Regions from separate parts of the Homo sapiens genome. Here region 1 is linked to region 2. The links come from fine-mapping of genetic effects on gene expression. Tissue or cell type: whole blood. Region 2 holds a variant in brackets; the other region holds the start of a gene. All regions are shown on one strand. Distances are from middle to middle.

Evidence for each region. PIP is the estimated chance that this variant, and not a neighbour inherited with it, causes the effect.
Region 1: LINC00398 starts here. The variant in region 2 is fine-mapped to the expression of LINC00398 in whole blood (TOPMed, PIP above 0.99).

The regions. Positions count from the first base shown.
Region 1 is chr13:30,800,860-30,806,144 of GRCh38, reverse strand. LINC00398 (long intergenic non-protein coding RNA 398) reads right to left here and starts at 2,939. Exons shown (of 2, transcript NR_047012.1): 1 at 2,553-2,939. RefSeq lists an enhancer at 386-886 and a silencer at 3,045-3,164.
Region 2 is chr13:30,753,163-30,758,447 of GRCh38, reverse strand. ALOX5AP (arachidonate 5-lipoxygenase activating protein) reads right to left here. Exons shown (of 5, transcript NM_001629.4): 4 at 2,423-2,504. LOC124903146 (a long non-coding RNA gene) reads left to right here and starts at 2,849. Exons shown (of 3, transcript XR_007063743.1): 1 at 2,849-2,937. The variant A/G (reference allele first, on the strand shown) is at 2,269.

The DNA of each region.
Region 1 (5,285 bases), 48 kb before region 2:
AGAAAAGCTTCGTGTTGATTACATTTGTATTAATCAGGTGCTTTGAAACCCACTAGAAGGGTATCCTCTTATAGTGCTCCTCACATTGATGCCATGGTGTGAGTCCCTGGATCTGGCTGATTTGAAGCAGGAGGTACCTATGCAGGACTGGGTGCTCCCCAGCCTTTCATGCACCCTCCAGCTTTCCAGACAGCTTGGCGGGATGACAGTGTGCCCTCAACCTTCTCCCACACATCCAACGCTTCCAAGGAGAACAAGGGCATCATTGATTTCAGGCGCTGGTAGGAATGTGCAGGGGCGGGCAGGCTTCCAGCACTCAAGCTTCCCTTGAAGATAGAAAATGCAAGGCTACCAGGAGCACTGAGAGGCCCCAGGCTGGGCCCAGCCAGGAATCCACCGGGAAATGCTCTTGCCTGGCTTCCGGAGCCTCAGGGCTGGAGCGGACACAGGGCTCCTGTCTTGGTGCCTTCAGTGGCTGGGCTGGCCTGGGAGTCTGGGGCAGAAGTTTATTTAAAGAACCTACTCTGAGTTCTGTGGGTGGCGCAGATCCAAAAATTTCATATATATTCAATGTCAGACTAAGCATTTTTCTGTGTGGCAGCAAAAATCTTTTACATAATTAGCTCATTTAAGCCTCACACATGTTTATGAGGTAGGATCACTATCATTTTACACTCAGTTGAGGAAACTGAGTCAAAGAGAAGAATGAAACCGACCTGAAATCACACAGCCAGTAACAAGGGGGGCTGGGAATGAACGCAGAGCCCTCCCACCCCAAGGTCCAAGTTCATGGCCGCTAGCAAGCATACAGCCAGCATAGAAGGAGATGAAGAGCACAGACCTTGTACCTTGCTTCCTGGCTCAGATCCCAGCTCTGCCACTTTTCAGCTGCGTGACTTTAGCAGGCTGCTAAACCTTTCTGTGCATCAGTTTTTTTGAGAGTAAAATGAGATAATAATAGGAGCTAGCACATGAGGCTGTATGTGGATTAAATCAATTAATATAAGTGAGTGCTGAAAACAGCCCCTGGTGTGTGTGTGTGTGTGTGTGTGTGTGTGTGTGTGTGTGTGTGTGTGTGTGCTGTGTGTCTGCTGTCGTACATCCTAAATACGACTTCTCATTCCTGCACAATCTTGTTTTGTTAGCTCCTTCTCCACCTGTCAGTGAAGAACATCTAACACCTGAAACCCTTGCCAATTATTTTGGAAAGAGACTTTCTGGAGGAGGTCAGCCAATGCCACTTTCCAGCTGTTGTATCTTCTTTCCATCCAGCTGGACATTGCTAGATGATATCTGCTGCTTGCAAAGGTGCTGGGAGGCCTTGCTTCCAGGGCTTGGTGGGCACCATGTTACCCAGAGGAGACGGTGCCCAGCCAGCCTCTGCCACATGGGTGACTGGGCACCACCCCTGCTGCTGATGCCACTGGCACTCCCCAGGCAGAGGCAGCTCTGTTCTCTGAAGCCCTCATTGTGCCAGAGCCATATGGGGCCACCGCCGGCCACCTGCCTGCAGGGCCTGACATAGCACTTGAGGGAATTGGCTTTTGGTTTTTCCCACAGAATCCATGAACTCATGGGAGGCTGCGCTGTGAGTCAGAAATGAGAATTAACCCTCCTCTCCATTGCCGGAAGCCCTGTTATTATCCCCCAGCCCCATCTTCCTCATTCCCCGACTTCGCCTCCTCCCCACCTCCTTCAGTCAGAAGTCCTCAACCCGACTCCCTGTGAAGGCCCGTGGGATGGCCTTGGGGGACCTGCACTCTAACACTGGACATGTGCAAATCCTGGGAAGATGCTTACAGTTATCAGCATCCTCTCAAAAGAGGTTCATCACCTGAAAAAGTCAAGGACACTGGCTTCTATAGGATGAGCCAACCAGTTAGGTTGCATCCTCCGGGAAAGGCTCCCAGATAGAGTTATGTGTGCAGAGGGGCTATAGCTGAGTAACTCCTGTGGAGGGGCCAGGGGAGAAGTAAGCCAGCCCCACAGAGAGCTCTGGAGCACAGACCACCCAGGAGAGGAATCCCGTGGTGGGCAGAAATGCCAGGCCTTTGGGCCACTGCCTTGCTCTTATGTGGGCCTGGGCCAGCCCAAGGAGGGCACAGTCCTTTTTGAAAGCTGAAGCTTAGTCTGACGAGCTGTGAGTGGACAGCTGTCAGTAGCCACGCTCCTTGTAGCTGGGCCTGGAATCCTTCCTGGAAGGGGAGTGCGGTGCCTGCTGCATGGCCCTGGGCAGCTGCTGTGCACAGCTGCTGGCGGACCCTCACCAAGGTCCATCAGACCTGCCAAGGCAAACCTGAATCCTATATGTGACTCCATCTAAGCCAAGCTGGGACTCTTCCACTCTTAACTTGGAAAATGTGCATTCCCAGCTGCTAGGTCCTGAACTTGACCTGGGGAAGAGAACGACAAGGCCATGCTTGGGCAGGAGAAGCTAGGTGTAGGCAAGGGAATCTTTACCTTATGAATGGGTTGTATACATGTTGCTTGTTGTTTAGAGAGTGGAATACATTTTGTCCTGGAAATCCTACTATAAATGGGGGGATGCGTACCTGGGCCTTCTTGCAAAAGCCTGTTAAATTCCTAATGATGTTGAAATGGTGGGAAGGGTCATCCAGGGAGGACCTCCACGCCCGCCCATCTCCTCTGGGTTGCCCGGGCAATCCTGCAGGAGCCGAGGCTGGACGCAGCTGACCCCAACAGACAGGAGAAACAAGCCAGCACCACCGGAGAGAACCAGGCTGAAAGGGTGACCCAGGGCTTCCGTGGCCTAGAATGAGAGAGACATCGCATGGCGCAAGGTTCCAAGTAGGGTTCGCGGCGGGGAGGGCCCCTGCCGCAAAGGGACTCAGTGTTGTGCGAGGGAGGTGAAGTCGCTTCTTGATCAGCCGTATTTCTTGCCTACACTTGACACCGTCACCAGCCCAGGCGCCTTTCCGGTCACCCTCACGGAAAGGCTCATCCACGCTGGAAGGAGGGAACCTCCTCGTTAACCTCTAGCATGCCGGTGCCTGCCACCCCAGGGCGCGGGAGCCCGCAGGAGCAGGCGTGTGGACGTCCTGAGAGCTGCCACTAGATGGCGCGTCTGCCCTGCCTACTCAGGAGCCCCGCTCAGGGCACCGGGTGCGGGAGCCCGGCTAATTGCCCTCTAATGAGAAGGCTGCTCCCAAAGTGCCCTCCTCGCAGGGAAAGCCCCAGGCTCCTATCAAAGGGAATGGCTTATTTATCCTCTAACGTGAAGAAACTTCCACACAGCATCAATTAAACACATTAAATGTGACCAGAGTGAGAAAACATCTAAAGGATAGAATATTGAATTGTTGCCACTGACAAATATCAAACCACCCATTCTGGTCTCGGTGGCGTGTACAGTTGACCTTGAACAACACAGGTTTGAACTGTGTGTGTCCAGTTAGAGGTGGACCTTCTTCTGCCTCTGCCACCCCTGAGAAGCGGGACCAACCCCTCCTCTTCCTCCTCCTCCTCAGCCTACTCAGAAGACCACAAGGCTGAAGGCCTTCATGGCGATCCACTTCCACTTAATGAGTAGTCGATATACTTTCTCTTCCTTATGATTTTTTAAATAACAATTTCTTTTCTTTAGCTTACTTTATTGTAAGAATATAGTATATAATACATTAACATACAAAATATGTGTGAATCGACTATTTATGTTATCAATAAGGCTTCCAGTCAACAGTAGGCTATTAGTAGTTCAGTTTGGGGGAGTCAAAAGTTGTATATAGATTTTAAACTGTGTGGGGATTGGCACCCCTAAAGCCTTCATTACTCAAGAGTCAACTGTAGGTGGGCCCTGGGAAGGTTCTCAATTTTTTTTTTTTTTTGAGACAGAGTCTGTTTCTGTCACACAGGCTGGAGTGCGGTGGTATGATTTCAGTTCACTGCAACTTCCGCTTCCAGGATTCAAGCAATTCTCCTGCCTCAGCCTCCGAGAAGCTGTGACTACAGGTGCGTGCCACCATGCCCGGATAATTTTTGTATTTTTAGTGGAGACGGGGTTTCGCCATGTTGGCCAGGCTCGTCTCAAACTCCTGACCTCAAGTGATTCACCAGCCTTGGCCTCCCAAAGTGCTGGAATTAAAGGTGTGAGCCACTGTGCCTGGACGGTTCTCAAATTTTCTGAGATCAGATGGAGTCTGCCCCTCCACCTGGCAGGCTGAAGGCTGGGGCTTGCAGAGATGTGGTGTCTGTTACCCCAGACACTGCAGGTGACCTTGCCTCTTACTAACTTTTCTTATCAGTACCATTTGGACCCTCACACTCATGAGGATGTGGGTGATAATGTGGAGGTTAAATAATATGGTCACTGATGATATTTTCTATACTGTCTGTTTGCAGGGCAGAGTCTTACAGATCTGGACCACAGCAGACCTGAATCAAATAAGAATATGCCCAGATATGGGGTATTCGGGAGCAGATTATGAAACAAGGAAACTGAAGTCCTAAGCAGATCCACAGTTCCAAATTCTGAACCGCTTGAGGCCACATCAGATACAGGATGCTATTATGCTATTAGGGCTGTGGCTTAGTACATTATACAGATGGTGGGGAAAGGCCTGCAGGAGAAAGGCCTACCATTCCTGGATTCCAAAAATAGTGGTCTCCTAAGCAATCGATCTGCTTTTATGTTTAATATTCATCTGTTTCCCTTTCCCAGTTAACTCCTAGAGCCAAACTCACGGCCCACAGGAAGGAACCATATCAACCTGCACGGTGTGCTTTTAATTTCCCTCACCTTGTTCCAGCCTCTATTTTATGTTGCCACTCTTTTCTTTCCTTTCTTTTTTGCTCAGGCTTTTAGTACATATTTAACTTTTATTTTATGTCTCCTCCTCTTCAAACCACCTTAAGTCCTTTTTGGAATAGAGCAGAACACAAATAAAATAGGTGTCAGATACATTCTCTCTGTGACCTTGCATTGGGTCAAAGGACTCATGAATGTGTGTTACCTGTAATCTTTTGTGGAAAAGAGGATTTTAAAATTCTCTGCCAGCCTTCCCAAGTGGTGACATTTTCCTATACTACTTCTTTACTATTTCCTTTAATTTTGATTAACCTTTGACTCAGACACCTCTGACTAGTATCTTCTAGACTTTTCTCTTTTGCATGTAATACACAAAGCCTTCTTTTTTTATTTTCTAATTTCAGAAAGTGTATATTAATTTATTAGAGAACTTAGGTGGCTGATTGAAAAAAAAAGGAGGGAGGTACAGATTTAAACTTTTTTCCATCAAGAGTATTGCAAACCAGCAATACCATTTCAT
Region 2 (5,285 bases):
GGGTTCAAGAGAGAAATTCCGGGGGAAGGATCTCATCTAGCAATTCCTCCTCGGTTGGTGAGGTCAAGAACTAAAGCAGGTCCCAAGAGCATTAGGTGTCTGCAGAGTCCAAGTGTGACATAGCCCAGGAACAGAAGAGAGGCCTGGGGAGGAGATGGGCCCAACTGAAGAAGATCTCAGCAAGTAGCTTCTAGACGGCAGGGTTGAAAATCTCCTTGCATTTAACCATAAAGCCCCTCTGGCTTGCATCTATATCAGGCCGTATTTTGGTCTAGATTAGGCTTAGACATTTCTTCTAGTATCTATTACTTCTACTTATGACAGCTGCTCAGAGTGGTTGTGTTAAGCAGTATCTGTGTTAAGAAGGATTCCGAGGCCAGGTTTGGTCTCTGGAAGAAAGAGCACCATGATTCATCAGTAATGCCTACCACGGCCAGAGGGGAGGAGAAGGGGGTCTAGAACCCGCGCAGATGGCGGGTTATGGGGCTGGCAGGATCTTCTTCTTATCACCTAAAGAGGGAGACCAGGGAGGGACACAAGAAGGCAGGCCATTTATATTTCAATGAGGTCCGAAGAAATCTACTATTTTAAAGATTTCTTGTAAATCAATCTCCTATTGTTTATTTTTGCCACCTCTGTTCATTCCCTAATAGGAATCAGTTAGTAAAGCCTTTAAAGTTAAAAGGACATGTGGGTAGGTGGACAAATTTTGTCATGTTCTGCAGATGGTCTCGGAATTAAAGCAGCTGTAGGATCTCAAGCAAGTGGTGACAGATGAAGAGAGGAGCAGTGACTGAGCCACATCCCTGGGACTTTGCAGGGGGTAAGATAGGGCTGCATAGGGAGCCAGGCAAAAGAGAAGACCCTCTTATTTCATTGCTAGACATTCCACCCCCACTCTTAACGAGGTAATCACATGGGAAAAGGCATGATAGAGGTTTTCCAGGGCAAAAGAGAATAAAGAATATCATTTAGGGCAGTGTTGATAAGAATAGGAGAGATAATGGAATTGTGGTTTTAGAGGATAAATAAGAATGCCACTAGAGAGGAATGAAGAAAGAGATGGCACAGGGAAGGATCTGCTGAAAGAACAGTCATTCTTTTTCCAGCTGCAGCCCGGCTCACGGTCTAACCCCGTCAAGTCCTTGAGCTTCACAGGCTCTCAGGTTTTCCAGATATAGCGCTTTCACCCGCTGACCTCCCTAGGATGTCACTGCCTTTATCACTACTGAAGGATGCTATCTAATCATAGAGCCCATTAGCCACTAGAGAGGGGTGCTATTGTAAAAGACAGAGCGGCTGTGAACACAAGGAAGGAAAATGGTGTGGAAGGCTGGGGTCAGCACCTGGGGCAGCAGCCTCACAGAACGTGTTCCTGGCACCTGAAACCATACTAGTGCATTAGGAATTGCAATCTCTAAGGAACTGACGGCATACTCTAACGCCGACATTTCTTCTGTAAGTATTAGCATGTATTTTACTAAAATCTAGATTTCCTAGTCCAGATGTCAGGAAGGTACTGTGCTGCTTTGGGGCTTTCTGTCTGGCAACATCTATAAACAATGCAATGGTGATGCTAGTCAGTTTCACAGTCTCGTGTCTGCATCTTTTTTTTTTTTTTTTTTTTTTTTTTTGAGATGGAGTTTTGCTTTTGTTGCCCAGGCTGGAGTGCAGTGGCGCAATCTCGGCTCACTGCAACCTCTGCCTCCTGGGTTCAAGCGATTCTCCAGCCTCAGCCTATGGAGTAGCTGGGATTACAGGCGCCCACCACCATGCCTGGCTAATGTTTTGTATATTTTTTAGTAGAGACGGGGTTTCACCATGTTGGCCAGGCTGGTCTCAAACTCCTGACCTCAGGTGATCCACCCACCTCAGCCTCCCAAAGTGCTGGGATTATAGGCGTGAGCCGCTGCACCCTGCTGTCATGTCTGCATCTTACTGCATCTTATTTTCCCAACATTCTTTCTTCTGGTCCCTGAAAGATATGTTCCTCAGGACAACTTATCACAAGGTGCAAGCTTTAGTTCTCATTTCTCTAGACAAACAATGAAACATTTCACTCTCAGGAGGCCTGGGAACCCAGACCTAAAATGTCATTCCAGCGCCAGACTCTGCAGGGCGGGAGTGCAGGGTGTGGGGCTGCAAGGCACGTGCAGCAAACAGCACTGAAGCACCCTTTGAAAGCCAGCACCATGCGGAGGAATTGCTTAATAAGAAAACTGGGCAAGTCCCCCCAGCTGTATTTTCAGAGCCTTCAAAGCTCAGGGA[A/G]AGAAGAATCAGAGGTCCTAGTCAGCCTTCCCCCTCCCACCCAAGGGGATGCTACGGAGCCGTGAATCTAGTCAAATACTGTTTTGAATTGTCACTCTTCCTGCTCAAAAATCAGGAATCGCTCCACAGTTCTTTAGTAGTCCCAGTTACCTACCTCTGCGTTCTCTCTCCTAGGTAACCGACAAAGTACTTTTGCCTCACAAACAAGTACATCAGTCCAGCAAACGCAGCAGGAACTAAGTGGAGAAATGAAAACACCTGTGTCAGTTTCGTAGCCACCAAAACATGCTGTTAGCCCAATTAGGCAATCAACATTGGTCACAAAATCTAGCAGAAGACACACGCACTTCAGGAAAAGAGCCCAAGGGCTAGAGGAAACCTGAGAACCTTCCTAATACTGGTAACGACCTTATGCCGGCATCATGGCATTGTTTACAACAAACTTGTCCAACCCGGAGCCTGCGGGTCGCACGTGGCCCAGGATGGCTTTGAATACAGCCCAACACAAATTCATAAACTTTCTTAAAAATATGAGATTTTTTTTGCAACGTTTTTTCTTTAGCTCATCAGCTATTGATAGGGTTAGTGTATTCTATGTGTGGCCCAAGACAACTCTTCTTCCAGTGTGGCTCAGGGAACCCAAAAGACTGGACACTCCTGGTTTCCAAGGTATTTGCATATCTATCATCTAACCTGAGTCCTTTCAACATAACTAGTACCCACATTTCTATTTCCAGATGTGGAAACGTGGGTTCAGGTGGTCAACCAGGCTTGCATAAGGCTGTCAGCTCGTAAAAGGGGGCAGAGGGTAGGGCTTAAACCCCAAACCCAGCTCTGAAACTGGTTCTCTTAAAAGTACACCCTTCACCCCTGAGCCTCCCCACAGCACAATGTTTAACCTTTCTTGAACTAACAGCTACCATTTAGAAGAGAAGGACATTCCCTCTGCATTCTAGCCTTTTGGGAAGGAGATTCCCTCTGCGTTCTAGCCTTTTGGGAAGGAGATTCCCTCTGCGTTCTAGCCTTTTGGGAAGGAGATTCCCTCTGCATTCTAGCTTTTTGGGAAGGAGATTCCCTCTGCATTCTAGCTTTTTGGGAAACTGCCAAGAGCAGCACCCCAATAACTCTATGAAGTCCTGAAGGCTTGGAGCTGGGAGTTAACTAAGCTGGAACTAGTGTTATCTAGAGCTACAGATATAAAAGCAATTTAAACACTTCCGCCATTGAGGGAATACTTTTCACCTGCCGCAGTGCTCCTGGCGTTTTGGGAACTTGAGTCTCCAATCCTCCCAGCTCTCTGGTAAGGAGTGTGTTACTGTCACCATTTGACAGACGAGGAAATTTAGGCTTAGGCCACAAGAGCCTAAGACAGATGAGGACATCTGTCTTTTTCCTAGATCATCTCTGAGCCTGGCATAGTGCCTGGCACATAGGGGTGTTCAAAATAATATTTGTCAAATGAATGAAAATAAGTCAGGCCAGTGAAGGCGTGGAATTTGAAGCCAGGTCTTTCTGATTTCAAAACTTTATCACCACCACCTGCATTATCAATAATAACATTTATTGCGCTTCAGATGTTAGGTGGAATCATATGAAATGCTATTTTTGTAGGTCATAAATAGCCAGATATTGGCAGTTTTACATGGCTCAATCTGATATATGCCAAGCACTGTGTCAGGAGCTTTATACATATTATTTCACTCACCATAGGAATGCTACTAGCTAGACCATGGTCCTGTTTTACAATAAGGAAACTGAGGCTTGGAAAAGCTGAGTAACTGCCTGGAGTCACACACCAGCAATGAGTGTCCTTGGATTTGCCTCCAATCAGCCACTCCCCAAAACCCATTTCTTTCCACAATTCCTCCTGCCTTCCAAAATACTATTGTTATCCGGCAGATAAGAAAATCAAAGCAAAAGAGAAACTGTGAACTCTTTTTGAGACGGAGTTTCACTCTTGTTGCCCAGGCTGGAGTGCAATGGTGCTATCTTGGTTCACCGCAACCTCCGCCTCCCAGGTTTAAGTGATTCTCCTGCCTCAGCCTCCCGAGTAGCTGGCATTACAGGCATGCACCACCACGCCCAGCTAATTTTGTATTTTTAGTAGAGACAGGGTTTCTCCATGTTGGTCAGGCTGTTGTCGAACTCCCAACCTCAAGTGACCTGCCTGCCTCGGCCTCCCAAAGTGCTGGGATTACAGGCATGAGCCACTGTGCCTGGCCCATGCTATTCTCTAAAAATCACAAAGCTGTCACAATCACGATTTGCCTTGGGCAAAGTTTTTCCTTATGTTATACCATCTGAATGATTCTGCTCCAACTTACTGGTCCATTTTTCTTTCAATGGGAACCCAATTGAACATGAGCTAACAGAGATTATGGGTGGAAAATGGCCACACTCATACCCCTGTGCAAGGAAGGTGAGTGCCTCCTGCAGGGAAGTGGGCTGCTGGCACCAGGAGGGTACAAATCCAGCCCCTAAAATTCTGATGTTCGTTCAAGCCACTTGTTCCTCTGGGACTTGAGCTTCTGCTCTATAAAGTGAGGGATTTGCACTAGAATTATCTTTGGGTTTCCTTTCTGCTAAAAAAAATTCTACAGTCTACTTTATTCCTAAGAAATGACGATTATCAACCAAGGTTACTGATGCTTTTGTCTGCTGGCAATGACAAAGCTTGTTTTGACAGGAAATACCTATTTCCAGGGCTACGAAACACCTTCAAACTCCCATTGTATTTATCTAGCTACAGCAAGTCCGCATTCATCTAGATCAAGCATCATCTAAGACATAAAAAGAACCATAACTCCTAGTAAGAGCATAGTTTGACTTGATTTTTCAAGTAATGCGAGACATGTTTCCTATTTAACTCAGGAGAGAAAATAGGAAATAAATGGTGAGCTTACTGACAGCCTTCTCAGCACAGAAGGAGTGCCACGTGGTGTCCCTTAAGTGGTTTCTGCTGCCGCCTCACCTCTGCTCTCTATCACTGAACTTGGTTCTCTTCCCATATGGCGCTT